Linked DNA regions of Homo sapiens. The protein of the gene in region 2 interacts with the protein of the main gene of each other region in a pairwise test. Each region holds a gene or a part of one and is shown on either strand. Other genes may lie near its edges. The genes, in order: PRMT3, TMEM132D, UMOD, TMED5, EFEMP1, SAMD12 and TOB2.

Evidence for each region.
Region 1: the proteins of TMEM132D (region 2) and PRMT3 interact in a two-hybrid assay, tested with the Homo sapiens proteins (one large-scale study listed by BioGRID).
Region 3: the proteins of TMEM132D (region 2) and UMOD interact in a two-hybrid assay, tested with the Homo sapiens proteins (one large-scale study listed by BioGRID).
Region 4: the proteins of TMEM132D (region 2) and TMED5 interact in a two-hybrid assay, tested with the Homo sapiens proteins (one large-scale study listed by BioGRID).
Region 5: the proteins of TMEM132D (region 2) and EFEMP1 interact in a two-hybrid assay, tested with the Homo sapiens proteins (one large-scale study listed by BioGRID).
Region 6: the proteins of TMEM132D (region 2) and SAMD12 interact in a two-hybrid assay, tested with the Homo sapiens proteins (one large-scale study listed by BioGRID).
Region 7: the proteins of TMEM132D (region 2) and TOB2 interact in a two-hybrid assay, tested with the Homo sapiens proteins (one large-scale study listed by BioGRID).

The regions. Positions count from the first base shown.
Region 1 is NC_000011.10:20,394,120-20,398,149, reverse strand, and holds part of PRMT3 (protein arginine N-methyltransferase 3), read right to left. Parts: intron 2,348-4,030; coding exon 2,188-2,347; intron 574-2,187; coding exon 429-573; intron 1-428. UniProt on the Homo sapiens protein: Protein-arginine N-methyltransferase that catalyzes both the monomethylation and asymmetric dimethylation of the guanidino nitrogens of arginine residues in target proteins, and therefore falls into the group of type I methyltransferases.
Region 2 is NC_000012.12:129,078,507-129,082,536, forward strand, and holds part of TMEM132D (transmembrane protein 132D precursor), read right to left. Parts: exon of another isoform or gene 3,943-4,030; intron 3,527-3,942; coding exon 3,253-3,526; intron 220-3,252; coding exon 28-219; intron 1-27. UniProt on the Homo sapiens protein: Regulate neuronals morphology via inhibition of the WAVE regulatory complex (WCR), a complex that controls F-actin cytoskeletal dynamics.
Region 3 is NC_000016.10:20,349,677-20,354,294, forward strand, and holds the start of UMOD (uromodulin isoform a preproprotein), read right to left. Parts: upstream 3,040-4,618; 5' UTR 3,013-3,039; exon of another isoform or gene 2,866-3,012; intron 1,503-2,865; exon of another isoform or gene 1,344-1,502; intron 1,164-1,343; 5' UTR 1,062-1,163; coding exon 974-1,061; intron 194-973; coding exon of another isoform or gene 95-193; intron 1-94.
Region 4 is NC_000001.11:93,152,791-93,156,820, forward strand, and holds part of TMED5 (transmembrane emp24 domain-containing protein 5 isoform 1 precursor), read right to left. Parts: intron 3,694-4,030; coding exon 3,510-3,693; exon of another isoform or gene 3,468-3,509; intron 3,295-3,467; coding exon of another isoform or gene 3,246-3,294; intron 2,099-3,245; coding exon 1,880-2,098; 3' UTR 1-1,879. UniProt on the Homo sapiens protein: Potential role in vesicular protein trafficking, mainly in the early secretory pathway. Required for the maintenance of the Golgi apparatus; involved in protein exchange between Golgi stacks during assembly.
Region 5 is NC_000002.12:55,881,841-55,885,870, reverse strand, and holds part of EFEMP1 (EGF-containing fibulin-like extracellular matrix protein 1 precursor), read left to right. Parts: intron 1-4,030. UniProt on the Homo sapiens protein: Binds EGFR, the EGF receptor, inducing EGFR autophosphorylation and the activation of downstream signaling pathways. May play a role in cell adhesion and migration. May function as a negative regulator of chondrocyte differentiation.
Region 6 is NC_000008.11:118,615,399-118,619,428, forward strand, and holds part of SAMD12 (sterile alpha motif domain-containing protein 12), read right to left. Parts: intron 1-4,030.
Region 7 is NC_000022.11:41,432,730-41,437,067, reverse strand, and holds the end of TOB2 (protein Tob2), read left to right. Parts: coding exon 1-757; 3' UTR 758-3,574; downstream 3,575-4,338. UniProt on the Homo sapiens protein: Anti-proliferative protein inhibits cell cycle progression from the G0/G1 to S phases.

The DNA.
Region 1 (4,030 bases), on a different chromosome or scaffold from region 2:
GCTGCCCTTGAGAAGACTAAAATTGTCGTTTTTCCAATATTTTAAGGAAAAAGTGATTTCATAAAAAGATTAATGATTTTAAATGGAATGTACAAATGACTGATGCCTCTGTAATCTTTTTTTTTTTTTTTTTTTTTAAATAGAGACAGGGTCTCACTGTATTGCCCAGGCTGGTGTCAAACTCCTGGGCTCAAGCAATCCTCCTGCCTCGGGCTCCCAAAGTGCTGGTATTACAGGCATGTGCCACCGTGCCCAGTCTTGTAATATTTTCAACCCAAGATGAGATACCAAGCACCAAAGAGGTGTTTAAAAAGCAGTTCTCCCCACCCAAAAAAAAGAGGTCTCCTATAGTGCACACATATATTAAGAAAGAACCTGTTCTATTTTTCCTTTAGTATGGATTTGACGCATTTGTGTTCTTTTCTAACCTTTAGCATTTCTTCATGTATCCCATAATGCCCGTATGAGCTGAAATAAACACCATCCTCATCCTCCTGGAGGTCCGCAATGACACTAGTAGATGACGAGCAGGTTCTGACATCTGTGTGCATCACAAAATCCTGAGCAAATTGTCTGTAATCAATTTGAAATACACCCTTGAGACAGGTTTATTGGACCATGAATAAAGGAAAGGCTAGAGGTTGAGGAAGAGGAAAGGGGAGGGAGTACAGTGTGATGAGTCTTCTAAATCACATTCTATCTTGAACAACTGAAAGCTCCCCCTGCTGGATCTGAAGCAATGGCAATATTCAGAAACAATTATACATACTCCTTCTACAAACCACAAAAGCAATGCCAACCGCAGATTGTAGCTCCTTATGTCTTTCAACTGAACAAATAAGCATATTACTTTTATAATCCTCTATTATTTCTATTGTTTTAAAATCCTTTTTTAGCAAATGAATCAATGTCGTTTATTTCAGCTCTATTAATATTCTTTAAAACCATATTATTTCTTGGGAGTATTATGTAAGCAGAAAGTAGACCCAAATAGATAATTATTTACATACACCAGCACCGCCCACTCCAGCTCTAAAACTTAGATCCCTCTCAGATCATGACATATTAGGAATCCATAAGGTATATAAAAGGGAGAAGTTCAAAGGGGCAAAAGGTAGAGCTGGTGTTGGTTACTTGGTTACCTAGCATAAAAATTCTGAAACAGGGAAGAGGAACTACAATTGGCTCTACTATCTTTCCTGCTGGACATTCATTCTGGCAAACCATCAGATGGGTACTCAGGCAACAGCAAACAGCTTACAAATCCAACAGGAAGGCCTGTGAGGTATACTTGTCAGAAATGCAGAATCTCAGGCCCTATTCTCAATCTTCTGAATCAGAATTTATATTTTAACACGATCCCAGTTGATTCCTATGCACATTAAACTTTGAAAAGTACTACACCAGTAGAATGCTAATTTATTCACTGGAAAAAACTGTCACTGTATATCTGGTTTTCTGGGTTCATACTACACCATAATTACATTCTGATTCCCCCCCACCGACCCCACCCCGACAAAGTCTTGCTCTGTTGCCCAGGCTGGAGTACAGTGGTGCGATCTCAGCTCACTGCAACCTCCCCTTCCCGGATTCAAGCAATTCTCCTGTCTCAGCCTCCCAGGTAGCTGGGATTACAGGCGTGCACCACCACAACCCGGCTAATTTTTGTATTTTTAGTAGAGACAGGGTTTCACCATGTTGGCCAGGCTGGTCTCAAACTCCTGACCTCATGATCCTCCTGCCTCGGCCTCCCAAAGTGCTGAGATTACAGGTGTGAGCCACCGCACCCGGCCTACATTTTGATTCTTTAAAACTAAAAACTTCAACCCTGTATTTTCCCCAAACCTCAAAAAGATTAATCCTTCCACTTTAAAAAACTAGGATAGAAAAAGTAAAATGGAGAAATCAATGCAAACAGGAAAACTGAAAGGAAGGCAATAAAGAACAAAAACATTCATGAGGACAACATTTGTCAGAACATATCAGAATAGGTAAAACTATAAGATTTTATATTAATTAACTATATCCATAGTGTACAAAAATGCTACATATCTTTAACAGTATGAAGATAAAATATCTACATTGTACTTTCCAGTATATGAAATGTTCTACTATATTCTACTTTGCCATTAGGTTGTATTATTCTGGAGATCTAAAACAATTAATTTTGCAAGATTGATAAATTACTTCATTTTTTGCAGATCCTCACGTGCTCTGGCCAATGCGGCTTCAGCAGACAGTGCCCTGGCTTCCATATGTTTCAATTTTTCAACAACAGATGTATTTTCACTGAGTCCATTGGGGTATGAGAAGGGTACTGACACCGGTTCATAAAGATCTTCTACATCTAAAGAAATAAATGGACATTATTATCAGGCCATCTTATAACAATAAAACAAGTATAAATATGTTAGGAATAAATACGCCCTAAGTTTCTACTATGTGGCCAATTGAGAAAGATTAGTGAAAGTACTTTTAATTGAATATTAATCATCTTGGCTTTGCACAGTGGCTCTTGCCTGTAATCCCAGCACTTTGGAAGGCCGAGGCAGGCAGATCACTTGAGGCCAACAGTTCAAGACCAGCCTGGCCAATTTGGTGAAACCTTATCTCTACTAAAAAAAAAAAAATACAAAAAGTTAGCCAGGTCTGGTGATGCGAGCCTTTAGTCCCAGCTACCTGGGAGGCTGAGGCAGAAGAATTGCTTGAACCTCGGAAGCGGAGGTTGCAGTGAGCTGTGATCGCACCACTGTACTCCAACCTGGGCAATACAGTGAGACTCGGTCTTAAAAGTAATAATAATAATAATAAATATTTATCATCTACACTATTTTAATTTGAATTCAAAGAGCATGCTGTTAGTCTAAGTTTTTCATTAGTTGGCTAAACTGAACATATATTTAAATATTAATTATTAATTATACTCAACCAAATCCAGGAAGAAAGAAAAAAGTAGAAAGAAAAAAACCTAATATTTATTGATCAGCAGGTATCTTTCCAGTACATCATTACATCTTGTTTTATTCTCAAAACACAGTTAAGATGTATTTATCCCTATTTTAGGCAAGGAAAAAATAAATTTCAGAGAAATTAAGTGACTATCCTAAAGTTATATATCTGTTTATGGAGGAACTAAGATTTAAACCCAAACCTGCCTTCCCAGCCCACGTTCTTCCCATTACACAAAGCCACCTCCTAGCCCATGTCCTTATTGTAGCAGGTATTAAATTCAGATATTGCTTAAGGGAAATCCTGCCATATATGAAAATATGAATGAACATGGAGGACATTATGTGAAGCAAAATAAGCCAGACACAAACAGACAAATACTGTGTGATCTCACTCTTGTGTGGAATTAAAAAAAAACTCACAGCAGCAGAGAGTGGAATGGTGGTGGAAATGAGGAGATGTTGGTCAAAGGGTACACACTTTCAGCTACAAGATGAGTAAGTTCTGGGCATCTGTCTATTGTAAAGTGACTATAGTTAAAAATGCTGCACTGTATACTTGAAATTTGCAGACAATAGATCTTAACTGTTCTCACCACAAAAATAAAAAAATGGAATGTGAGGTGATGATGTTAATCAGCTTGGTTATGGTAATCATTTCACAATGTATATGCATATCAAATCATCACATTGTATACCTGAAATGTACACAATTTTCACTTATCAATTATACCTGAATAAAACTGGAGGAAAAAAAAAACATTCCTAAGGACAGCGTGTAAAGAATTCTACACATTCAATAATTTTTCATCCTGGGCAAGGTGGAGTGAAATCTATACACTAAAGTCTTATTGCTGATATTATTAAATATCCTAATTCCTAGTATTTAATTTTAATTTCACTTCTCTACAAAGAGAAGTTAATATATGTAGTTAGTGAATTTCACAAAATCAGTGTCCATTTACTGATCTAACTTTCGGATCAACTTAAGGCAGTGAGCAGTGCAAATATTACATTTTCCCCTCAGGATAGCACTGGAAGAAATGTGACTTCGTAAAAATTCCTATTCATTTTTTAGTTGT
Region 2 (4,030 bases):
AAGTGTGTCTCAAGCCCTCCTCCATACCTGTTTTGGCCTCTGCAGAAGTTCCTGAGCCACTGCAGTGGCAAAGATGGCCCTGTTGCTTCCTGGGCTGAGCTGCAAGGAGAGTGACAGCCCTGTCACCAGCTGCACCCCGAGGTCTGTGATGGTCACCTTCTCGTCCAGCACAGTGATGGTCTTTTCAGCGAGGATGGTGTCTGACAGAGGAGACAGGATCTGGAGGGCAGAAGCGACATGACAAGGAAAGGCTTTCTGTGGTCCAGGCAATGCCTCCAGTCACAGGAGGAAGTGCCAGTGTGCAGGCAGCGGCAGGGCAACATGTGAGCCAGAATGAATGAGAACAGGCCTTTCCCACTCACACCACCTTCTGAATCATATGTATTGCTTGAGAAAATGTAATGCATTTTTTGCATAAAGCAAGGTGGTGTCAAGGAGTGGGCAGGTAGGGCTTGGCCCTCTCCCCACACCCCACACATCAGCTCCGTTTCCCACCATGCTCCATCCTGGACAGGAGGAACTGACGTTTTCATTCGACTATTAGCTTTATGATTCTTCTACAGCACAGTGTGTATTTTGTTTAAAATTATTTATTTTACTTAAATGATTTGTTTTTTTCAAAAGCCTTCCTATCACCAGTGAATGACGGGTTGGGTGTACTGGTTACATATTGATAGCTTTCGCTCTTGCACATAAAAACCAATGTGCAACTAGAAGGCGGATCCTGCTGGTCCATCTCAATCACGCGTGTCACTGGAGGCCACACTGTACACTTTGGGAAACGCAGCGCATGATGCCTGTTGATGAGGAATATCGTTGGGCATATTCTGATAAACGTAGGTTCTGAATGTCTACGCCTGATGCCCACAACCCAAAGCCTCATTTCTCCTCTGGACACCTGGAATGACCTGGAAAATGAGGCTTATGTGCAATTTAGACCCTGAACAGGAAATCCTGCTTTTGAGGAACGTCTGTGGAATCACTTCTTCCTCCTCTCACCCTTCGCCCAAATGATAAACAGCTGTCTTAGACTCCTCACAGCCCCGTATAACAACCTTCCTTCTAGAAGAGATGGGCTTCATCCTCCATTCTCCTGCTTTCTCGACCTCTTTCTCTTTTCAAGTTTTTGGTGATATTTATGATGTAGGTCAAGACAGCAGTTTTCCCAGGACCCTTTGAGACCAGGAATCAAAGCTCCATACTTCTACCCGAATGCCACCTTCACTTTCTGGTCCGATTGGGACAATTTAAATGGTGGCGAGCATGAGAGGTGTGTCCCCAGAAGAAAGTGGACAAGTGAATTTATGACTCAGGAGGACACAGTGAGAAAAAAGAGAAAAGAACCAAGGCTCGCAGGAGTAGAGGCCTCACCAAAATAATGTTCATGTTTAATGTGTGGGAAGCTGGCCCACTTCCTCTTCCCTGACACCTGGTTTCAGAACGGTATGGCTTTTCCCCTTTGCACTTAAATTATCACTTAAGGGAAGATGTTAATACCAAATTCTCATCTCGCTGTGAGTTTCTGGGCATCAGTATCAGTTTAGCCTATAGATTTATGGTAGGGATTCAGGTCTTTCAACTTCTTAGTCAATTGTGGAGGTTGCAAGCTCTCATCTATGAGACAGATATGTTTTGTCTGACATAAATCATATTTTAAGGTAGAATTAATGACCATCATTTAGAGAGCCAGAAGATTGCATATAAAAACAGACTTCCAGCTTTTCTGGAAAATTGCAACATATGGCTGCAGTAGACTTGCGTTTCTTCTTGGCAGCTTTTGGCTCTGAGTAAGAGCTTGCCCCTTTTCCACAGGCACCACCACTCCCTGTTGTCTCTCTAACACTCAGAGGAAAATCAGCTGCTGTCTGTCTTTCAGCACACACCCAGCCTACTCTCCTCACTGATGGTAGCTTCTCAGCCTTTAGAGATCATTAGAGCATGCGACTCCTGGTCTACGGCCCAAACCCATTTATTTTCCTCCTTGGATAAAATGAAGTGTTAGATATACCAGCCAATTTTCCAGAATGGATATGTTTTAAATCTTCCACGATCCAATCTAGTCTCAGTTATAATGATTCCTCATGCACAGCTGTTTTAGAAACCTCACAGATTGCCTGATAAGACAATCGCATTGCCTGCAGATGGGGCAGCTGCTGAGTAATACACTCTTCCTTTGGCTACAATGTACACTATTTGGGTGATGGCTACACTAACAAGGCAGACACGCAATATGTCCAGGTAACAAAGCTGCACTTGCACCCCTTACATGTACACAGAAAGAAAACAATCTCTTGCTTTGTTCTCAGCTGGGAGGTAAATGACCAAACCCTTACAAGCCTCCCAGAACACTGTTTTGTTAAAGTGTTTCAAAACCCAAGTGTTGCCACTGGTCCTCTCCGTCACCCGCTCCCCAGCAGAAGGGGCCCACGAGACATATGGAGGCACAATCACTTCACTTCGTCCTTTAGCACATTTCTGAGTTGTTCAGGTTCTCATCAGGCCCGCGGCTGTGACTCGGTAGGGGCGGCCACAATATCCTGAAGCCGTGGGAAGGTTTAGGTGACCATGCTCAGTGGCGGAAAGTGGCTCAGCAGGAAGTTGCTGGCCGTGCCTGTGATTCAGATCAGGTAAGCTCACCTCAAAAGCTTGTTTACCAAGATGGTAACGCCTACCATGGCTTGGGCAAAATCATGTGTTTCAAGCGTGAGCCACCATGGGAGCCAGCCCAGAGTTTCTCCCCTATAAGTAATATGTGAGGAATTTTGAGATTCTCATCACATCATTACATGGCTTGCATTGTGGTTTTGTCTGAGATGGGGTCTAGCTCCATCATCCAGGTTGGAGTGTAGTGGCACGATCTCAGATCGCTGCAACCTCTGCTTCCCAGGCCCGAGCGATCCTTGCACCTCAGCCTCCCGAGTAGCTGGGACCACAGGCATGCACCACCACACTCGGGTAATTTTTTGTATTTTTGGTAGAGATGGGGTTTCGCCATGTTACCCAGGCTAATCGCAAACTACTGAGCTCATGACCTGCCCGCCTCGGCCTCCCAAAGTGCTGGGATTATAAGCGTGAACCACCACACCCAGCCAAAATCGCTTGTATTGCTTACTCCACAATTTCTTTGAATTTACCCATCCTAAAAATAGATACCATTCCCAGCAATGACAAACAGCTGGTTTCTCCTCTAGGTAGAGCAGAGGTGGGAAGACAGAGAGATCTTGATTTGGGGATTTTTTTTTTTTTTTTTACCTGAATGGTGGTCATCCCAAGCTCCTGCCCCATCAGGATCTGTCCGCCTTGCAGCTTGGCGATCCTGGGCTCCTCCACCTGCATGAAGTCATTTATCAGCTCCGTGATGTCCACTTGCCAGTCTGAGCCCAGCAGGTGGGCCAGGTGTCCCCCAGGGCCGGCCGCCTCAGCCACAAACTGCGTCAGGACCCGCACCATGGCGTGCTGGTACTGCAGGGTGCAGCCGCGGCCCCTCCGCTCATCATCCTCCTCCTCTTCACTGTCCCCGGCAGGCCTGTGAAAGAAGCAGTGCAGTTTGCAGACAGTTACTTGTTGGTCCTCTGTAAGGGGCCGTGTGTGGAGCCTGGTGGGGGCTGCAGAGGTAGGTAGGCCATGAGACTTCAAGGAGTTTATAGCCAGACATGCAGAGGTGAACTTCAGATACTAACCACTGCTCTGGCATGAGCACTGACCCATCAGCATGGCCGGTGCAGCCAGCAGAGTTTAAAGTGTTCACAGTGGCCCCTCACCTCCTGGTGAGGGGTTTACTACTTTGTGTAAACCTCTCCCTTTGAGTGTGGGCTGGACCTAGTTTCTTTCATCCAATGAAAAAGTTATGGCAAAAGTGATTGGATGGTCACTTTCCTGGCTAGACTTGAAAAGCCTGTGACTTCTGTCTTGCTTGTGTTTTCTTTCCTTGGTTCTTTGCAGTTGCTCACTCTGATGAAGTGAGGTGCATGCTGTGAGCCAAGCTGTAGAGATTTCCACCCAGCTAGAAGCTGAGAGTGACCTCTGGCCA
Region 3 (4,618 bases), on a different chromosome or scaffold from region 2:
TTCAGAAAAGTAATGCGCAGAATTCCTATACTTTGGTAGGATTTACGGTGAACCTGTTGCCCCTCCCTTTCTTTGCACATTTTATGTTTTCTGCTTCCCTGGCTGGTGAAATCTTCATCAGGACCCTGCTCAGTGTCGCCTCCTCTCTGCGGAGTCCTCCAACTCCACCTGGCTGGGCAGTTGTACTTTGTTCCTCCGTAATAAAAATAACCATTAAAAAAAAAAAGAAGCTGTTGTTTATTAAGCAATTACTATATGCCAGGCAATAGGATGTGCACTTTTCACTCACTATCTTGTTGAATACTTCCCAAGGGCCTCGTGAGGTCAGTTTTTTATGTATCCTTATTTTAAAGATGAGGAGACTGAGGTTCAGAGGGATTAAGCCCCTTACTCCTTTGGTAAGAAGTAGAACCAGGATAAAAACGCAGATGGCAGGACCACAAAATATGTGCTTTTAACCAGGACACCGCAATAGTATTCATCGTGCCCCAACGTACTCCAGGGAGAAAATGAAAGTGGGGTGACAGCAAATCTCAACCCAATGGAATGACCTCTTAAAGTTGAAAGGGAAGGTGTTTGGATCCTCCTGCATGGGTTCAAATCTCCTATGTGATAGAGTATGTTTCTGACTTCCAATAAAGGGCCTGCAGGCCTTAGAGATGTTCTAGCCCCTTGCTTTTCAATGTGTACTCCAGGGACCCCAGTATGAGCATCGCCTGGAAGCTTGTTAAAAATTCAGCATCTCAGGTCCTACTGCAGATCTGCTGAACCAGAATATGCACTTTAGCAAAATTTCTAAGTCAGTCCTGTGCATATTGAGTCTAAGAAATGGACTTAGAATGAAGACAATGCAAGTCTCAAGTGCGATAGGAGGATTGAGATCACCTCTGACAGGTGCTACATTGCTTCCCCCACACATTCACACATACACGTGCATACACACATATACAACGCACACACACTTTTCACTTACTTGCTTCTGAGGTGTCAGTGGCTGCAGTTGTGATGAACCAAGAGGCCACCACCACCATCAGCATCCAAGTCAGAGATGGCTGCCCCATCCTTTCTGCTCTTCCCGCTACTTCAGGTCTAGATAGCACCTGCCCAAAGGAAAGACGGGTTGGCCCTTTGAATTTTTCTCTCTGTCTCTGATGTCTGGTGTCCTGTGAACAGAGATGGATGGGACAAATGCATGATCTAACTCTCCTCCCCACAGCTGGAAGGAGTGCTTTGATTGTATAGTATACAACTCCAGGAGGTGTCACTTATATGGACTAAAAAATTGCATAACACTGCAGCCCTTGTTTTGCTGGGACTTTACCCCTTGTACTCCCCCTCCTTACCTCACCAACATCCCAGTCTTGGCTCCCCAATTCTCAGCACATTGCACATTTTGAAGAACTCAGTCATTTGGAGCAGGAAGTAGCCAGATGGAATAGTGTTCTGGACTCACCACTTTACTGAAGGCAGCTTTGGATTTTAACTGATCCTCTGCCTGGAAACTTTCAATTTGCCTGGATCACTTATTCATTCAACAAACATCTATTGAGTAGCTACATTGTGCCAAACAGGGAGCTAGTCACCATGGAGAACAATGAACATGGCAGTCTGCTCCTTCATGCAACTCACATATCGTAAAGAAGTGGCTTGAGACGAGCAACTTGAGAGGTAATTAACCTTCACAATGCATTTAAATGTTTCTGGAGTGGTCACTTACTATTTCTTCCAATTGGAAAAATAGTCCAGGGTGGATGCCAGTATTACCCCAGTGTTTATAGCAGCAAAATAGGGTGGCATGTTGGTTAAGTATGTAGGAGCTGCAGCCTGCACCTGAGGTTCAAATCCCTGCTTTACTGATCACTAACACTGTGATGTGGGTATTTCAGTTTACTAAGTCTCCGTTTTTGTCTGTGAAATGGAGATTGTTGCTTTCACAAACTGAATATCTATGATGGGCCAGGCTCAGTTCAAAGACATTCATGTGCTCAAAGGCATTGGGTCCTAGAGCAACGTTTTCCAGATCTTCGTGACCATGATGTACTAAAAGAAAAACATTTTATGTTGCCAGGTGCAGTGGCTCATGCCTGTAATCCCAACACTTTGGGAGACTGAGGGGGTGGATCACAAGGTCAGGAGTTTGAGACCAGCCTGGCCAGCATGGTGAAACCCCATCTCTAATAAAAATACAAAAATTAGCCGGGCATGGTGGTGGGCGCCTGTAATCCCAGCTACTCGGGAGGCTGAGACAGGAGGATTGCTTGAACCTGGGAGGCAGAGGTTGCAGTGAGCTGAGATCGTGCCACTGCACTCCTGCCTGGGTGACAGAGAGTCCATCCCCCCCCCCCAAAAAAAAAAAGACAGAAAGAAAGAAAAACATTTTATGTCATGATCTAGTGCAGTCGCTTCTGCATGTATGTGCACACACACATAAAATTTTATAAGACAATTGATATCCTTACTACATTAAGTGATTTAATTCTTACCACAACCCTATGAGATAAGTATTATCCTAGTTTGCAGATGAGAAAACAGGGGGACAAAGAGGCTAACTGCTTGCCTCAAATTTGTATTGCTTACTGACATATTCTATTATATTTAATTAAAAGAAGTCCCTGGATATAACCCACAAAAGGAATGATTTTATGACCCGCTAATAAGATGCGACCTAAAACACTGCATATTGTCACTGGGATTAACTAAGATGACATATGTCGAGCAGGGCCCAGCACATAGCAAGTTGTTCATTGTTGTAACCCTGGTACCTGGCACATAATAGGTGCATAACTAATATTCATGGAATAAGTCAAAAAATAGTAGTCATTGTTACTAGGACAGAGAGGATCAAAGAGAGGAAAACTAACTTACTAAAGATCATGAAGCCAATAATTGGCAGAATAATGACTCAAATCCAGGTCTGACCCCAGTGTCCAAGGTCTTAATTTCCTCTCCTACCTCCCTCAAATAGGATGGGGAGAAGCTGGGCTAGGAGAAGACAGCTACAGATAGCCTTACCTGAAGCCAGAAAGGTAGAGTTAGTCTGGTCATGATGTGCCTCATACTTATATATACACATTTGCCCCAGGCTGGCAATCTCTCCTCCAATTAGTCTCTAGTTCTGTTTTTTGATATTGTTTTCTTGGGGGTGGAATATTTTTTCCTCCTGGCATAATGTTTGCCTTGTCCAAGCTGTGAGGTTGTTGTTGTTCTTTTTCCTAATAGCTAGAGACCCCAAATGATTGACATTGGGGGGTCACACCTGTGCCCGGAAATACAAGGTCACTGTTTCGCACCTTCTAACAGCAAGAGATTCCATAGTTAGAAATTAACTGGGAAAGCAGTGCCAAGGTGCTGGGCTTCTTCTTGGTCACTGACAAGGGCAGGGTGGGATCAAGGAGCCAGGCAGAAGCCAGTATCTGAAGCCAGGCTGCATAAGGACAAAAGGGATATTCACTGCCCCAGATGGGAGGTGCACCTGTCTTGGAGAGGGCACCCTTCTGAAACACCCATTCTCATGAGATCAGCCTTAGAATCCAGACACAAGCAAGAGAGGAGCTGAGAATGGCTGAAAGTCAGAACCAGAAGGTAGTTCAGACATCACTGGACCTGACCCACTCTGTACAACAAAGAATCAGGTCTGATGACTGGGAGGTCCCTTTGGAGGCGAAATAAATTTGCACTTAAATAGACTGACTTTGGAGTCAGTCTGCCTCCTTTATCTGGTGTTTATTGTGTGGCAGTGGGCTCATTTCTTAACCTTCCTGAGGTCCAGAGGTCAATTTCCTTGTCTATAAAATGAGAATACCCATCTCCCACAGTAGTAATAGTAACCAAAGGAGATGATGCAAGTAAAGTCATATAGTAATGATTATATTCATGGAAGTAGTGAAAATTCTGCTTTGCTGTTGTGCAATCACTGAGGTAGAAAATGACAGAGCCTGAGTTAAAACCATGTCTTCAGACCCAGTTCAACATACATGACATTCCAAAAGTCAGTGTGAGAGTGGCTGTCATCATGTTGAGAAAAATAAAATATGTGTGAACTTGGGCTGAGCAGGAAAATATCACCATGATCACTGCATTGATCTTTTTTTTTTTTATACTTTAAGTTTTAGGGTACAAGTGCACAACGTGCAGGTTTGTTACATATGTATACATGTGCCATGTTGATGTGCTGCACCCATTAACTTGTCATTTACATTAGGTATAACTCCTAATGCTATCCCTCCCCGCTCCCCGCATCCCACAATAGGCCCCTGGGTGTGATGTTCCCCTTCCTGTGTCCAAGTGCTCTCATTGTTCAATTCCCACCTGTGAGTGAGAACATGCGGTGTTTGGTTTTTTGTCCTTGCGATAGTTTGCTGAGAATGATGGTTTCCATCTTCATCCATGTCCCTACAAAGGACATGAACTCATATTTTTTATGGCTGCATAGTATTCCACGGTGTATATGTGCCACATTTTCTTAATCCAGTCTATCATTGATGGACATTTGAGTTGGTTCCAAGTCTTTGCTATTGTGAATTGCTCTTTTCAGGACATTTCTCCATCCTGTCCCACTCAGTGGTAGGGTAACCACTGGCACTGGTGTTGTCATCTCCTCAGGATTATGTCCAAGGAG
Region 4 (4,030 bases), on a different chromosome or scaffold from region 2:
TTAACAGCGCAAAAGGGAGGGGTATTCATAGGCAAGGATCTTATTGACCTTTGTTCTGCAAGTGTTGCAGAGGATACCCCTAGACACCTGAAGCATTTTCTTGGCCAATTAAGGTAATTGATCATATACGGCATTTACCTCATTTTTAAAAACCTTGCCAGTAGGGAAATCTAAGCTGCTCTTCTCCCAGGGGCCTAAGAGGGAAATGTATCTCTTTTTATACTACTATGAGTGTAAATGAAATCACTCTCTGGTTATCATTATTGCTCATCAAGAATTCCAGCATTACTAACCTGTTGAGGGGTTCTATACCCCAAATTTTAAGTTTGTTTCTAACTCACAATGTAGTCATAAACAACGTTATAAATGGGCATAACTTAAAAATTATAGTTCATTCATGATGAAGTTAAATTACTAGTACTTGAGTAAGACCCCCATAGACTTCAAAAAGCTAGATGGCAGAAACTTTGTTGTATATATGGGTTATTCACATTTAGGTGTTTAAAACTTGGGAGTCTATGTTTCTAATCCTTACTTCAACATCAATAAATAAAGTGTTCAGAAAGGCCATTTTAATAAAAGTTGTTATAATAAAAATTTTTAATAAATATGTACACCCAGTGCTAAACCTTACAGTAGGGCTTACATTTTATAAAATGTACCTGCTTACAAAAATAATTCAAACCAGAATTCTTGTAGAAAATAAAAACCTACAGCCAAAGTTTCTTCCAGCTAACTGGAAATTAATCATCTCCTTTGATTTATGTTATGAGTAGGATGTCATGATGAGCCAGTCAGATTCTAGATATTTATTTATAGTTCTACTTAAGTGAATTTTATTTTGGATTAGGTTTTCTCAAGTTTTTCTAAATTCTTTCCTGTTTCTGATAATTCTTAGAGCTCAGAAAAGGAGATATTTATTTATGGTAGGCCCAGATCATTTTAGCAATATTTCCTTCATAACTGCTGGTAATAATGAATTATCCAAGTCAGCAATCATGTTAAAATTAACATAACATGATTATTAACTGTTGACAGATATTAACTTGACAGATACTATTAAAAATAAACTTATTTTACCTCACATTTAATTTTAAAATCCTACACTTTAGTTAAGGGTTAGAGAAAATGTGTCCCTATGGAGGAGGAAGCTTTTAAACTATATTCTTCATTTCAAAGAGAAAACATGTCCTAATTTTAGTAAGTGTAACTTTGTGTTTTTAAGAATCGTGAAAATGTCAGCTTTTGGGAATGTAAGCAAAGTACAAAGACTAATGCTTTCTGCTAATATGTTACACTGAAATGTATTTGGTTATAAAAATCTCAAAAACCTAATTGTATTTCAAAGCTATTATTCTATTTACATTATAGGAGAGATGCATATGTAAATAGAGAAAAGTTGGGCTTTTGTAGTCTAAAGATTTATTCAATCCATCATTAGGTAATTCTCAGGTGATTTATAACTTAAAACTGAAAACTTCCACAGTTAATTTGTAACTGCCGCATTTACAAAAAAGTTCTGGGTAATAGAACCTGTTAAAAACAGACTGGTGTTGCAATTAGGCCCAATACTCATTTATTTAAATCACCTAAGACATTTGCAAAATTTTTCAAAGTTAGGAAAATGCAGTTATTAATATGGCTTCATTCAGTTAAACCTATATTCTGCAAAATATTCCTGTTACACACTTAAGTACAACTGGATCAGCAGGATTACTTGCACAGAAAGTGAAGACTTAATTTTCACATTAAAATTATACCTGTTTCCTACTTTTATATCTCAAAATATTTTGGAGAAGACCATTAATGGTCTTGACTGTAACAGTTTATTGCATTTTTATGCCTCATTTTTCAATGTTACGTACTCTAGTTTGGAGTTTTAAGTTCTACTTTTCCTCTTATCTTCAAACAGACTCTTCAGCATATAAACTTGAATGGCTGACACCACCACCATGACCACTAAATTAACCATAGACCAGAAATTGACTCTATCAAAGTTGCTTTCTTGTATGTTTCGATCACGAGCTTCAAATGCTCTAAGCAGAGTTTGTATGTGCCCACTTTTGCTTAGTCTGGACTTGATGCTGTTGATGGATTCCTGGAGATAAATAAAATAATTTTATTATTAAAGAATGCTCAGAAATTTTAACTTAATTAAAAAATGAGGCTGGGTGCAGTGACTCATGCCTTGTAATCCTGGAACTTTGGGAGACTAGGGCAGGAGGACCCCTTGAACCCAGGAGTTCAAGACTGGGCTGGACAACACAGACAGACTCTGCCTCTACAAAAAGATGGGTATGGTAGCACCAAGTGTGGTCCCAGCTACTTGGGAGGCTGAGGTGGGGGGATCACTTGAGTCCAGGAGGTTGAGATTGCAATGAGCCATAATGGTGCCACTGCACTCCAGCCTGGGCAACAGAGTGAGTGAGACCCTGTCTCAAAAAAAGTTTTTTTCAAAATATGCTTTATGTTTTTTATCCAAACACAATTTTAAGTTAGATGGCTGCACAATTCAATTAAAGGGCAGGTACTATTTATATTACATTAGAGATTCTCTGTAAGGTTATATAATAGTTCTCCTGACATATTTATATTGTTTATAAGTAGTTATTTAACAAGGGAACAAAGCTACTGTGAATTGAAAATAGGTAACATGAAATTATTCTGAGTGGCATAGCATCAGGAGTTTTACGTACATTATCTCTTTCTTAGTCCTCACACAACCAAAGGAAATGACTAAGGTTTTTTTTTTTTTTTTTTTTGTCGGGGGATGGAGTTTGCCTAGGCACAATCTCGGCTCATTGCAACCTGAGACTGTGCCTGGTCAAATGATTAAGTTTTTAGAGATGGGGTCTTGCTATATTGGAGTGTAGTATCTATTTATATGTGTGACCATGGTTCACTGCAGCCTTGAACTGGGCTCAAATGATCCTCCCCCTAACCTTCTGAGTAGCTGGGATTACAGGTACCTGCTACCATGCCTGGCAAATGATTTCATTTTTAAAAACCCAATTGATATAACTTTAGGTATTTACCTATTACATAATGCATGTGTTTATAATATTTCCTTCTTTGTATGTTTATCTGAACAATTTAGTATTCAGTAAAACACCCAATGTTTTAATACCACAAAATAGTTGTGAAATTAGAAAACATTTTACTTTTCATATGCCTGCTGTATAATCAGAAGCATAATCTATTTATAATTTAAAAATTCTAACTGCACATTTATAAAACAAACTTACCAAGATGCAGTCTTATTTGCACATCTGAAGCTATTTTTATAATAGGGTCCTGGAAGATAAGTTATTTGAAAACTATAAAAGGGCTATATTAATATAAAATAAAATTAAGCTGATACTTGAGGTCAAAGTATTTATGGCAAAAATAAAATATTAGAAACAGATTTTCCTGGATAATGCAGATAAAATGCTTAGTTCAGTAACTTATTACCATAGTAAGGCCTCTGGCTGTTAATAATTTTTATTTTATTAGAAGACCATACTGACCAGGATGTCTTCCAGTTTCATATCCAATATATCTGTGCCAGTAATATATTTCTTCCAATCTTCTTGTTCTTGTGCCTGTTCTCCCATATTATCCAGGATTAATTCAAAGAAAATCACCTTCTCAGAAATGGTGCTGAATGTATTGTCAAAGCAGAACATGTAATCACCAACTTCAGTCTCTACACTGTATAAAAAAAAGTACATGTTTTAAGTTACCTGTATTTCTATTTGTGATGAAAAGCAACTAAAGGTAAAAATAAGAAGTAACAGGCTGAGTGTGTTGCCTCACACCTGTAATCCCAGCATTTTGAGAGGGCAAGGCTGGTAGATCACTTTAGCTCAGGAGTTTGAGACCAGCCTGGGTAACATGGCAAAATCCTGTCTCTACAAAAAAATAACAAAAATTAGCAGAGTGTGAGGATTGCTTGAGCCCGGAAGGTTGAAGATGCAGTGAGGCATGATCATGCCACTGCACTCCAGCCTGGGCAACAGAGCAAGATCCTGTCTCAAAAAAAAAAAAA
Region 5 (4,030 bases), on a different chromosome or scaffold from region 2:
GACTGAAGGGAAGGAGCCAAAAACATAGAGAATGAGGGCCTAAGCAGGGACTTAATGGACACCACAGAGATGTGGACAAAGTTGTCTCCATTAACTTTGAGAGAAAATCAAATGTGCGGTTCCCTAGACGTGGGGGTCGGTGTGATAAAGAGGCTAGAAGAGCTGAGCAAAGATTAGCCTGTGTTATTTAAAGCAACTAACGGTGCCAAAGTCAGCAAGAGAGGGACCTACAATAGTATAAATCACTAGGAGGGAGCACGTGGGCACATTTTTGAAAAATGAGGGAATCACCAAATATTGCCATTAGCTATTGTTAATGTATTAGAATGACGAAATGTGTTATGGTATTTTAGGAAGCACAATCTATTATTTTGTTCTTTGGTAATGTTAACATTAGGCTCTGTCTACATAGTTCAGAGAGACTCCTTATGTTGTTCAATCCAGACTCTCTAATCCTGCCTTTAAGGCCTTGAATTTTGTTCACGACAGATCTAGCATTTCATGATCCTCTTCAACCAGGCACTGCACCAGGCTCCTCACACAGAGCCCCGGCAGCTGTGCTGACGCCATCTGTCTGCCATTCTTCTCATGGAAACCAGTTTTGTCTTATCAGCATTTTCTAATGTGAGCTGCTTTCTGCCTAGAAACAGCTTCCTTTTCCTGGCAACCCATGTATCTCGTCTTCTTCAAAATGCAGTGGAGAACCCACCTCTTCTGGCGAATCTGCTTTATACCTCATAGCCTCTGCACTCCTGGACTCACTTGCTCAACATCATTTTTCTTTTACTAACATCTTACTGATTTTGCTGTGTTTCTCAGATATACCTTGTTACTCTGCTTCATACATTTTTAGCTCCATTAGGTAAAACACTGATCCTACTTTTCCTGAAACTTTAGGTACCAATTCTCAGCAAATGGTAATAACTCATTTATCCATTTATTGCACAAATATTTATTGAAAATCCACCATGTTTCATGCACTATCCTAGGCACTGGGAATACAGGGGGGAAAATAAGACATAGATCCCCCATCCCCACCCAAAGAGCTTGGGTCCAGGTCCCAGGAAATTTATTAACTGACTGCCTGAAAAACCAAGTGAGCTTAACTGTCAAGGATAAATTATAATCATGCAAAAACAACAAAAAATTTCTCCCCATAGTAATTTGTCCTAGATTATCAGGAAAATCATGGCTGACCTGAGTAGTTTCCCTTATAAATAAAGCATTGCTTTTGCTAATGCAGATATTCTCCCATACAAATGTAGGAAACAGATTTTTCTTACACACCATGGAGATACCTACAAAAGGCTGTGTTTGCACTATGGGAAGTCAGGAGCAAGTAGAGGGCAGTGGACTGTCATCAACACTCCTGGGAGAGCCACCTTTTCCAGAGCATCTGCACAGGGATGGGTATTCTGCTTTGAGTTTCTGACATCATTGTCCATTTTAGTAAATTTTGTATCATAGTGAGCTTTCTGGTATTTATGACAAATGGAAATGCATAGAAGTAGAAAAGCCAAACATAACGGAATTTAACAATGTATAATAATTTTATATGACTTTGCATAGATGTGTAAATAAGTAATTCCAGGATCTCAAAGTATAATTTTCAAAATAATATTGTGTTATTTAAATAAACTAATAAATTGACATTAACGTAATTGAAAATAGGTCAAAGAAATTCAGTCTGTTTATAGCCTTTAGCATTAGATAAACCACCAACAGCAAAGGAGAGGATAAATATTCTAAACCACAGCCAGAGAAGCCATAAATGGAAATGTAGTTAGTAGCTGCCTCCTGGTCACAGAGGTCACTTTTTTGACAATTTTATGAGTCCCAGTAAGTAAAATGTGTAATCACCAGTCAGTCCTAGGTGAGGCAAGTCTTGTTGCAGCTTTGTTTGGGTGTTGGTGGAGAAAGGGAAGGAAAGTAGTGGCAGTGAGCACAGTGGTATTTGTTTTTTGTTGTTGTTTGTTTTTATTAATTTAACTCACCTAATATTTTTATTAAATAACCCACTCAGAAGGTAAACAGACCTCATTCTTAAGAAGGAGTAGCACAGGTTTTTGTGTTTAAAATCTACTTAATGATACATTAATTCCACTGGAAATGTTAGCCTATTTATCAGACACTAAGAAATGAGCAACAAGAAAGTAGGAAGGAAGTCATAGGGCATCAGTTGTAGGAATGCAGCGGGGTGGAGGCAGTTTGCAGATAGATGTCAAAAAGAAAAGCCTCAGTCACTGCTGAGGCCTCCCTTAGAAAATGCAGCAGCCAGCCCAGGGCCTTGATCTGCTGCCAGAGGAAACTTGCCACATCTGAATCTAACATTGCCGTATCTCTCAGGACTGTTATCACTGCAAATGCTGGCAAATGTTCTTGACATAAAACAATAGATACTCTGCTGTCATTTCTGCATTAACGAGTCATAAAGCTCTGAAGAAACCCCAGTAAAAAGGTTTTCATCAAGTGCATCTGAGAAAATAATAAAAGACACAAAAAACAGCAGATAATTTCAAAGCAGGATTGTTGCACCATCGCATAGTACCTAAAAAGGACAGTTTGTAATCACTGACTTGAAAATAATACTAGTAGTAATTATAATAAATTTCAAAACAAAACAAAATAACAAAAACCTTAGCCAAAACTTTAAAACCAAGTTCAAAGAATTACGTAAGTGGATGCTTTATAGATTATTATCCAATAAATAGCCATACATCACTCAAGTATTTTTCATCTCCCCTCCCTCTTTCTTATCGAAAGAATCTCTCTTATCATTTCCACACCCAGCTAAGTGAAGCTGATTTCTGAGGACAACCCTTTTACAATCTCAACTTCATATATTATTATACTGCATAGTGTAAATGCGCAGTCCTCCTTGAAAATACAGAAAAGTGAAAGGCAAACCAACCTCAGGGTCTACTCTCAGAGATTCTTAGAGGGAAGACAGAAATTGGGTGAATTTTTTATTATTGATTCTTTCCCTACTTTTTCTTCCAACATACTACCATGAGTCTGCCACAGTGATGATCTAAGACCTCTGAAATCTGCCTCAGGGGTCTTAAATCATCACTGTGGTAGACCCAGGGTAGTATTTTGGTTTTTATACAAAAATTGTCATCTAGGAATCACAAGTTTTATGATATTGTTAATGAAGCTTAGAGTGGTTGTTGAAGAATGATGAAATTATATGATCCTTTTTTGTGTACTACTTAACTTCATGATATAGGAGAGCCGAATGAATATAAAAGTGATACAGATAAGGCAAAATTAGATTTTACTTATAAATTACTGTAAATATGAATGTACACACACAAATTTATATCACCTTTTGATCTGAAAGAAATTTCTTATAACTAGTTCATTATGCTATCACTGAGCATTTTTTACTTTTCTAGAACTGTAACCTGCATACTCATTAAGGCACATTTAGTAAATTATTCCAAGAAGTACACTGCTTTGAGAAAATATGGATTTTTAAACTACACAGGCTAGAGGAATATGATCAAATTGAATCCTTTGCATTCTGAAATTTGCAATGAAAGATTTATACATACATGTTGCCCTGCTGTTTGCAAAAACAAACAGCTACAGGGAACGTATAATATTAAAGGTTGATTACACCCAGTTATTGGTTAGATTTTTAGAAATTTGTCAATGGAAATTATCTCAAATACAATATATTGGATGGAAAAGCAAGTATCATACAATCTATTAAAATTTTTAACATACAAAACAATACCATATGTTCTAATGGATGCATCCCTGTCTAACAAAAGTACAAAAACATCTCAGGGAAGGATTCATTCCTACCGAGACAGTGGTAGCTGATGGGTCAAGGGATGAGGATGGTGTGAGGCTTTAGCTGTATCTGAAATGTTTCTTAACAAAACAAAATGAGCCAAGACCAACATGACAAAATGTTAGCATTTGTTAAATCTGAGCAGTACTCACTGGTATTTGCAAAATTATTTTCTGAACACTTGAAATAATTTATAATTTTAAACATTTCCAATGCAAGAACATTATA
Region 6 (4,030 bases), on a different chromosome or scaffold from region 2:
CAGGGGAGGGCCGGGACTGGCAGGGGTCAGAGTGGGCTAAGCTCCCTTTCTTACTACACTCCCCACCACATCTCGTAGAGTTCCTTGTACATGGGTGCTACTCTACTGCTTATCAACAGAAAGGCACCATCTGCTTGAATGCCTGTGAATGAGCATTTGCAATATCCCCTTTCTCATAATTAAATGCACAACAGCTGACACTCACTCGCCAGAGTTCAAGCATGGGCTTCAGATCCCCAGCTCCCCCTACCCTTGTAATATGTCACCACGTCATCCACTGTGACTCAGCATTACAGAACACAGCTACACCAGCAAAGGTTTCCCAGTTTCTGCTTCTCAGCACCAGCGCTTGTTTCTTCATTCAGGCGTGAGAAAACAGCAAGGCAGATGAGAAAGAAAGGGTGGGATAAAAGGAATTAGGAAGGGCTGGGCTAGGAAATACAACAGTACAATTAGACTGAAACCCTGTCCGAACTAGCTAAGAGGGCTACAAAAGAGATGGGGGTGGCAGGAACTGCTGCCACAGCAAGTTTCAAACTAGGTTGGAGGCCCCATTCTTGTTCACACAGTCACTGGAAGGAATTTTCAATGACGAACTTCTAGCCGTCATTCTCCTTCCTAAAACAAAGTGATCAATAGAAACTCTGGTGCAGGAAAGTCAGATCTGGTGGTATAGAGAACATAATAAAAATAAGAAAAAAAGATCCTCAGGAATAAGTGAATGGGAGAGAATCAGGGAGTAATTAGTTTAACAATCACACAATGAAGCTGCTGCAGGGATAAGTACCTATGAGGGAAACTTGTCCATCGTCTCACTGCTTTCATGACATCTGCTCTGTAGAGGAACACAGTTGGAAGTTCTCATTAAATGTGTATGGGAGTTACTGTGGGAATCAAAAGCAGTCATAAACCCACCCATTCCTTCATTTGTCTCCATTCATTCATTCAAGCTTCAAGGATGAGACATGAGACATAGTCCTTGCCGTAGAAAGTACCACCAGTAGAAGAGGTACATTCATAATGATGTTCCCAACAAGAAAAGGTAGTTAGGAAAGCATAGGTGAGCTAGCACCAAGAGAATCACACAGAGGCAGGACAGAGCTTCTTGTGTTCTATGAAGGGAAATCCATCAGAATTACACTTCTGGTCTCCCTCTTTACCCTCTGGGTCCTCCTCAGGAGAGGAGAAATCAACTCTCTGATGAGCAAGTCTGTGAAAAGGCACAAAGCATAGGTTCCCCACCTCTTCCTTTGGGTCCCACCTGCCTGCTGCAGGAGCCCATGTTCTCTCTGCTCTCCAGCTGCCAGTGGTATAGAGCAGGGGTCCCCAACCCCTGGGTTGTGAACTGGTATCAGTCCGTGGCCTATTAGGAACCACACCGCACAGCAGGATGTGAGCAGTGAGCAAGCAAGCATTACCACCCAAGCTCTACCTCCTGTCAGATCAACAGAGGCATTAGATTCTCAGAGGAGTGCAAACCCTACTGTGAACTGCACATGTGAGAGATCTAGGTTGCACATGCCTTATGAGAATCTAATGCCTGATGATCTGAGGTGGAACAGTTTCATCCCAAAACCATCCCCCATGGAAAAACTGTCTTCCATGAATCTGATCCCTGGTGCCAAAAAGGTTAAGGACCACTAGCATAGAGGGAGGCATCCCTATGACGGGTAAGTTCACTGCTGCATACAATATTAGCAAGCCCACTTACCCTCCAACCCAAAGTCAGAAAAAAATAACCCACTATAAGCTTGTGATAAAAATGATGTTTTTATCTCCCATGTGACTCCTTTTACTCTCTGTGATGCAGTTCTGAGTTCAAGTTGGGTACAAAGTCATCATTTATGGGGCTGCAAAGCCCAGTGTTTACCGTGACTGCTTCTATTTGTCACAAACGTTTGACGCTATCTCATTTCCCATTTTCCCAGTCACCGTTATTATTACTTAGCCTTACAATATTTTGGTGATGTGTAGTTTCTTCACTCTTCTACAGGAGAAAAAACATAGAACCTGAGCACTGAATGACTTATCAGAAGATATTTGGTAAGCTACCATGTTCATTTATGATGGAAAATTCAGATCCCTTAATATAGATGTCATTAAGAGCACACAGTCTTGCATTTGACATGTTTTTCTTGGGGAGAGAGGTGAGTGCTGAATATTGGAAATCATTTTTCTGCCACATGAGAGGTGCTATTCTGTTAGACCTGGAATAGAAATTACCATGTACAATGTCCATCCTCCCTATTTTTTTCATAAATATCTGAGGACAAAGCAAGAAAAGGAATTGGGGATGAGGGGTAAAAAAAAAATCCTTCTCTAGCTCTGGAGACTCGTGCATTTATATGTCATTCATGAAACAATGACTGTGGGCCTCCTAAGTGCCAGGCGCCATCCCTGGAATACAGAGATGAATACAAAGATGAATACGACACTGTCCCCAATGAATCCACATTTTTCTTCTCCCTGAATAATATTGCAACCCATTTCTGTTAGAAAACATCAATAGGTTTAACCGTCTATACACAGTCTGTCCATAGAGAATGGATTAGTTTGGGGTCCCTGCTACCTCCTTCCAAGAGGTCCTAGTCCCCAGTCCTGCTAAATTATTTCACAAGACATTGTTTTTGTTTTTTTTTTTTTTAAAAAAAGGCAATGTATGCCAGTATAATCCTAATCCAAATGCAGACCATAAGGTCGTACCCTGTTCTGTGGCGGGAAAGCATACCTGTAAGCTGCCCATAAATGCAAAGCATGGGTCACAAGCAGACTAGGAGACATAAATAGGATGTTGCAAATAAACTAAGAAGAAAACATAACACAGGGTAGTTACAAAACAATAAACAAAGGGCACCTCTTTTTCATCTTAAACACACGGCTGCAGGTTCAGCAAAGTGAATGAGTGAACTACTTGCTAGTAACACTTTTACAAATTCAAGTTTACTTAAGAAAAAGTTACACATAGTAAAAAACCTTCTAATTTGTTACTAATTAGAAAAACTGGCTGGCATGAATAAGTGAAAATTCAGGATATAAAACACATGCCAAATAGTATAGCTTTTCCTAAGAGAAGGGATGAGAGTACAAGTGATATTTACTTAGGATGCAGGTTCCAGACACCCTTCTAGAAGCCCTCTCCTTTATTTAATCCTCACAATGAGCAGGGCACGGTGGCTCACTCCTGTAATCCCAGCACTTTGGGAGGCCGAGGCGGGCGGATCACGAGGTTAGGAGATGGAGACCATCCTGGCTAACATGGTGAAACTCTGTCTCTACTAAAAGTACAAAAAAATCAGCCGGGCGTGGTAGCAGGCACCTGTAGCCCAGCTACTCGGGAGGCTGAGGCAGGAAAATGGCGTGAACCCGGGAGGCGGAGCTTGCAGTGAGCCGAGATCGCGCCACTGCATTCCAGCCTGGGCGACAGAGCAAGACTCCGTCTCAAAAAAAAAAAAAAAAATCCTCACAATGTTCCCAGGAGGAAAGCAGTAGTGAGCCCATTTTTTCCAGATGTGGAGACTAAAGCTTAGAATGTTAAGCAATTCGAACTGTATTTTCTATTCCAGTTCCTCTGGCAAAACTCCTTATTCTCTGAAGCAGCATTTCTCAATAAGTTGGGTAAACTGATCATTACTTGGCCATGGCTTGGCCTCGTTATACGGGATGGCCATGCGCTGCAGGACATTTATTATCTGTGGCCATGGGCACAAAATACCAACAGCAGCCCCCAGCAGCAGTTCCTACATATCCCAAATGTGTCCAGGGACAATGTCACCCAGCAGTAGAGGTAAACTGTTCTAAAAGATTTTTTGGGCATCAAGACAAAAGACTGAAGAGAAGGGCACTTCGAGGTGGGCAGATCACGAGGTCAGGAGATCGAGACCATCCTGGCTAACATGGTGAAACTCCGTCTCTACTAAAAATACCAAAAAAATTAGCCAGGCATGGTGGCGGGTGCCTATAGTCCCAGCTACTTGGGAGGCTGAGGCAGGAGAATGGCGTGAACCTGGGAGGCGGAGCTTGCAGTGAGCTG
Region 7 (4,338 bases), on a different chromosome or scaffold from region 2:
GATTGATCCCTTTGAGGTGTCCTACCAGATTGGTGAGAAGGGAGCTGTGAAAGTGCTGTACCTGGATGACAGTGAGGGTTGCGGTGCCCCAGAGCTGGACAAGGAGATCAAGAGCAGCTTCAACCCTGACGCCCAGGTGTTCGTGCCCATTGGCAGCCAGGACAGCTCCCTGTCCAACTCCCCATCGCCATCCTTTGGCCAGTCACCCAGCCCTACCTTCATTCCCCGCTCCGCTCAGCCCATCACCTTCACCACCGCCTCCTTCGCTGCCACCAAATTTGGCTCCACTAAGATGAAGAAGGGGGGCGGGGCAGCAAGTGGTGGGGGTGTAGCCAGCAGTGGGGCGGGTGGCCAGCAGCCACCACAGCAGCCTCGCATGGCCCGCTCACCCACCAACAGCCTGCTGAAGCACAAGAGCCTCTCTCTGTCTATGCATTCACTGAACTTCATCACGGCCAACCCGGCCCCTCAGTCCCAGCTCTCACCCAATGCCAAGGAGTTCGTGTACAACGGTGGTGGCTCACCCAGCCTCTTCTTTGATGCGGCCGATGGCCAGGGCAGCGGCACCCCAGGCCCGTTTGGAGGCAGTGGGGCTGGCACCTGCAACAGCAGCAGCTTTGACATGGCCCAGGTATTTGGAGGTGGTGCCAACAGCCTCTTCCTGGAGAAGACACCCTTTGTGGAAGGCCTCAGCTACAACCTGAACACCATGCAGTATCCCAGCCAGCAGTTCCAGCCCGTGGTGCTGGCCAACTGACCATCTACCTGCCCGTGGGGCCAGGAGCACCCAAGACCACAGAAAAGAGAAAGGAAAGGCCAAAAAAAAGAGGAAAAGAAAAATGTACAAAAAGATTTTCGATCTTCTCACTCTTACTTCTAGAAAAAAGATCCAGCCCAGGCACGGAATGGGAGGGCCCTGCAAAGCACCCAAGTGTGTTTCACTCACCCCTTACCGCTCGCCCACCGGCCTGTGATTTATTTGGTTGGTTTGGGTTTTATATTTCTTTTTCTTTTTTTTTTTTCTTACATGTAGTTTTCTATATAACATCTTTAATGAGTGGCTTCCTGTGCTAAGAATGGTCCAGATGTGAACTGCTGCTCCCTGCTCCTCCCTTCCTCCTTCACACTCCTAGTTTAGGATTGATGTGTCCAAGCTCATAGGGAAGAAAGAGCTGCAGCTGGAGCCTGACCCTCCCTGGAACAGGGAGAGGCTGGCCCGTGTCACTGCCTCTGTCACCCAGCTATCCTCGCACTCAAAGCCATCCAACCTCAGCAGGCCTTCTCGGGCCCTGCCACCTGAATAGGTCTGACCCCAGTCCCCACTCCCTTTCAGGCTGGGCCACAGGGAGTTGCTGGCTGGCCACTTGACACCCTCCCCCTGGAGCTGATGTCTGTGACTACAGGGAGATTAGCACTTCGTCTAGTGAAACTCCTTTCATCTCTGTCCTATGGCCCCACCCCACCATTCCCTCTAGGCCCAGACCATCATCATGGCCCTGGCCATTGATGTGTATGGGCTTTCTTTCCCTCATGCAGCCCCTTCTTCCCCAGGCTGGATGTTGTGGGTAGGGAGGGGTGTGTGTGTGTGTATTTGGTTTGCTGTCCTTTTTTAAAGGATTCCAAGCCATGTGAAACTTCCCTTCTGGATGTGATTCTGGGTCGCAAGTCCTTATTTATATGTGAGGCTGGGGAATGGGCTGGGGGTATTGGCAGTCCTTTTGCAGGGCAGTGTGTGTGGTGGGGTGACACCGCTGTGGCTTAGCCCAAGACACTCCCAGAGGAAAACACTGCAGAAGGAACTGGTTTGCAGACTGTGGAAGGATCTGCAGTTTTGTTTTTGACCAAAAAAATAATAATAAGTTAGCTCTGAAGGGCAGAGGGAATACCCAAGCCCCTGATGCCTATGAGAAGTCCCTGGACTTCAACCCTCCTGTTGTTTGGCCTTAGCCCAGAGGGAGCTGCTCACCTGAGCACCCTTGGGGGTGGGCAGAGAGGCAGGGTGGGATTTTAGAGTTAGTGTCTGTGCGGGGGCAGCCCTGAGCCTGGAGTTGAGACTTTGGGGTCTCTTAGTTTGGAGGTGTTGAGTGCATTTGTGCCCCTGCCTGGTTGAGAGCTTCTTGGTACCTCTTGCCACCCCTTCTCACTGCCCTGACCCAACCCCACTGGACCTTGATGCTGCGAGGAGTGGTGTCCTGACGGACTCAGCACTCCCGCCTGATGTATTGGATCATAGGAGAGCACTTGCTCTCCTGCCTCTGCCAGGAGAGGGCTTGTTCCTCCAACTCTAGGAGGCCAGGCAAGCATGGACAGGAGCCAAGGGAGCAGGGTCATTAACTTTTTCTTCTTTGCAAAGTGGGCACTTGGCATCAGGGTCCCAATCACCAGAAAGCACCAAAGCCCCTGGCACCCCACCCACTCCATCCTACCCAGGGACCCCAAGTAGGCAACTGTTATGGCAGTGGGTCCAGCCCAGGCCAGCACTGCCAGCCTCCTCTCCCTGCAGTAGGCACCAGCTCTACCTCCCCCGGCAGGCAATGTCCTGGCTTCTCAGCCCAGCACCATCTGTTCCCCTAGACTTCTCAGGGGCCAGCCCAGTCTGGGCCACCCTTTGTTTCCCTCATCCTCGGCTCCCACACAGGTGACAGACCCAGCAGATAGCTTCTCTCTGGGAAAGGTTGGATGCTGCCTTACATCCCCTTCTAGCCCTCCTCCCATCCACACACACAGGCACCCACCCACACCAGGTCGGCTTGTTTCTCACATGTAGGGAGAGAGGGGAGACCAACCCCTTTGTGTCTTTTGAAATACGAAGAAAAATGTGTGTTCAGGAGCATGACTCCAGTGCTGCGCTCTTGGGCCCAGTTCAGTCTGTCTTGTCTCAAATCTAGGCATTTTTGCTTCAATTTTATTTTTTTTAAGAATACAAAAACAGAAATCTGCACTAATTTACCTGGTTTCGTAGGAAAACTTTTTTTTATTTTTTACATTTTTTGGTGTCCGTTTGTATTGAATAATTTGCTACATTTGTAAAATGTAAGAGGTATATAATATATGTATATTTCTAACGTAAAAAACATAATTTTTTTCTTTTCAAGATTTTTTCTTAAAAAGATGAGAGAAACATATTTTTTCAGGAAAAACAAACTTTAAAAAAAAAAGAGGAGAAATAAAACCTTTTCTCCCCTTTCCCCATCCTCTATCTATCCCTCTTTCCCAGGAACAAATCAAAAGGTGGATTATCTTCTGAAGAATGGAAACTGTTAGTCCAGAATGATGTGTTTTTCTCAATGCAGTGAGTTATAGATTCTCTAGTTTTCTCCCTAGGGATGGGAAGGGGGCATTGAGGCAAGCCTGGAGAGGAGCCCGGGGAGCAGGGTCATGAACTTTTTTCTTTAGTGAAGGAGGAATACAATCAAGGGTTTTGTATTCAGAATGTTGTGCAATATTTTGGAATGGGACATTGGTGTGTTTAGAGATTTTAGTTTAAAAACAAAACAAAAAGATTGATCAAATCTGTACAGTTTCTATTGTTCCAGATTTTTTTAAGTTTGTATTAAAAGCATGATACATAATAGCCTTCTGCCTGCTCCTGGCTTGCTTGGTTTCTGGGGTCCCTTTTGGGATGGAGAGAATGGGAGTGGCCCAGCCCTTACAGACTCCAAGAAACGATTGGTCCTCCTTACAGTGACAGCCTCGGATGGACATAACTGTCCTGGTGCCCCTTCTTGACCACCTATCCATCCCATCAACACAGGATACATCATTGTGCTTGCTACCGCAGATGCTTTTCTACACTGGAAACAGGTTCCACAAAGTTAGAAACCGCTCCAGTTCCCTTAGCCAGTTGGTGGTGGCAGCAGAGCCTGGAGAACGGGGTACTTCATGGCTCTTTAGGAATTGTCTATTCCTGGGGGGAGGAGAGCGGGGACAGCCTCCAGCCTACTCTAGATCTAGTACTTGATCCTTAGTACTAGATCCTTAGATGTGGGCAAGGATGAGAACAGCTTGCCTAAGCCAGGTTCCATCCAAAAGCCCGGTGCTTGGATTCTCAACCCTTTTCTTGGGCTGGACAATTTCGGAGCTGCCTTAAGAGTGAGACAGCCCAGCCCAGAGAAAGCCACCCTTCTGCCAGTGGCCGATTTCCTTAGGAGCTCTGCTATCTCCCAGTGGCCCGGGCCATATTTTCCCCTTCCCAGGGCCTGTGCCTATCAATGCTGCCCATCTAGGAGAGAAACCTCCCACCTTGGCCTCCCTCTCAAAGTGCTGGGATTATGGACGTGAGCCACCATTCCTCATCCTGTTGAATTTTCACAGGGATTGTTCATCCTCACAGGGATT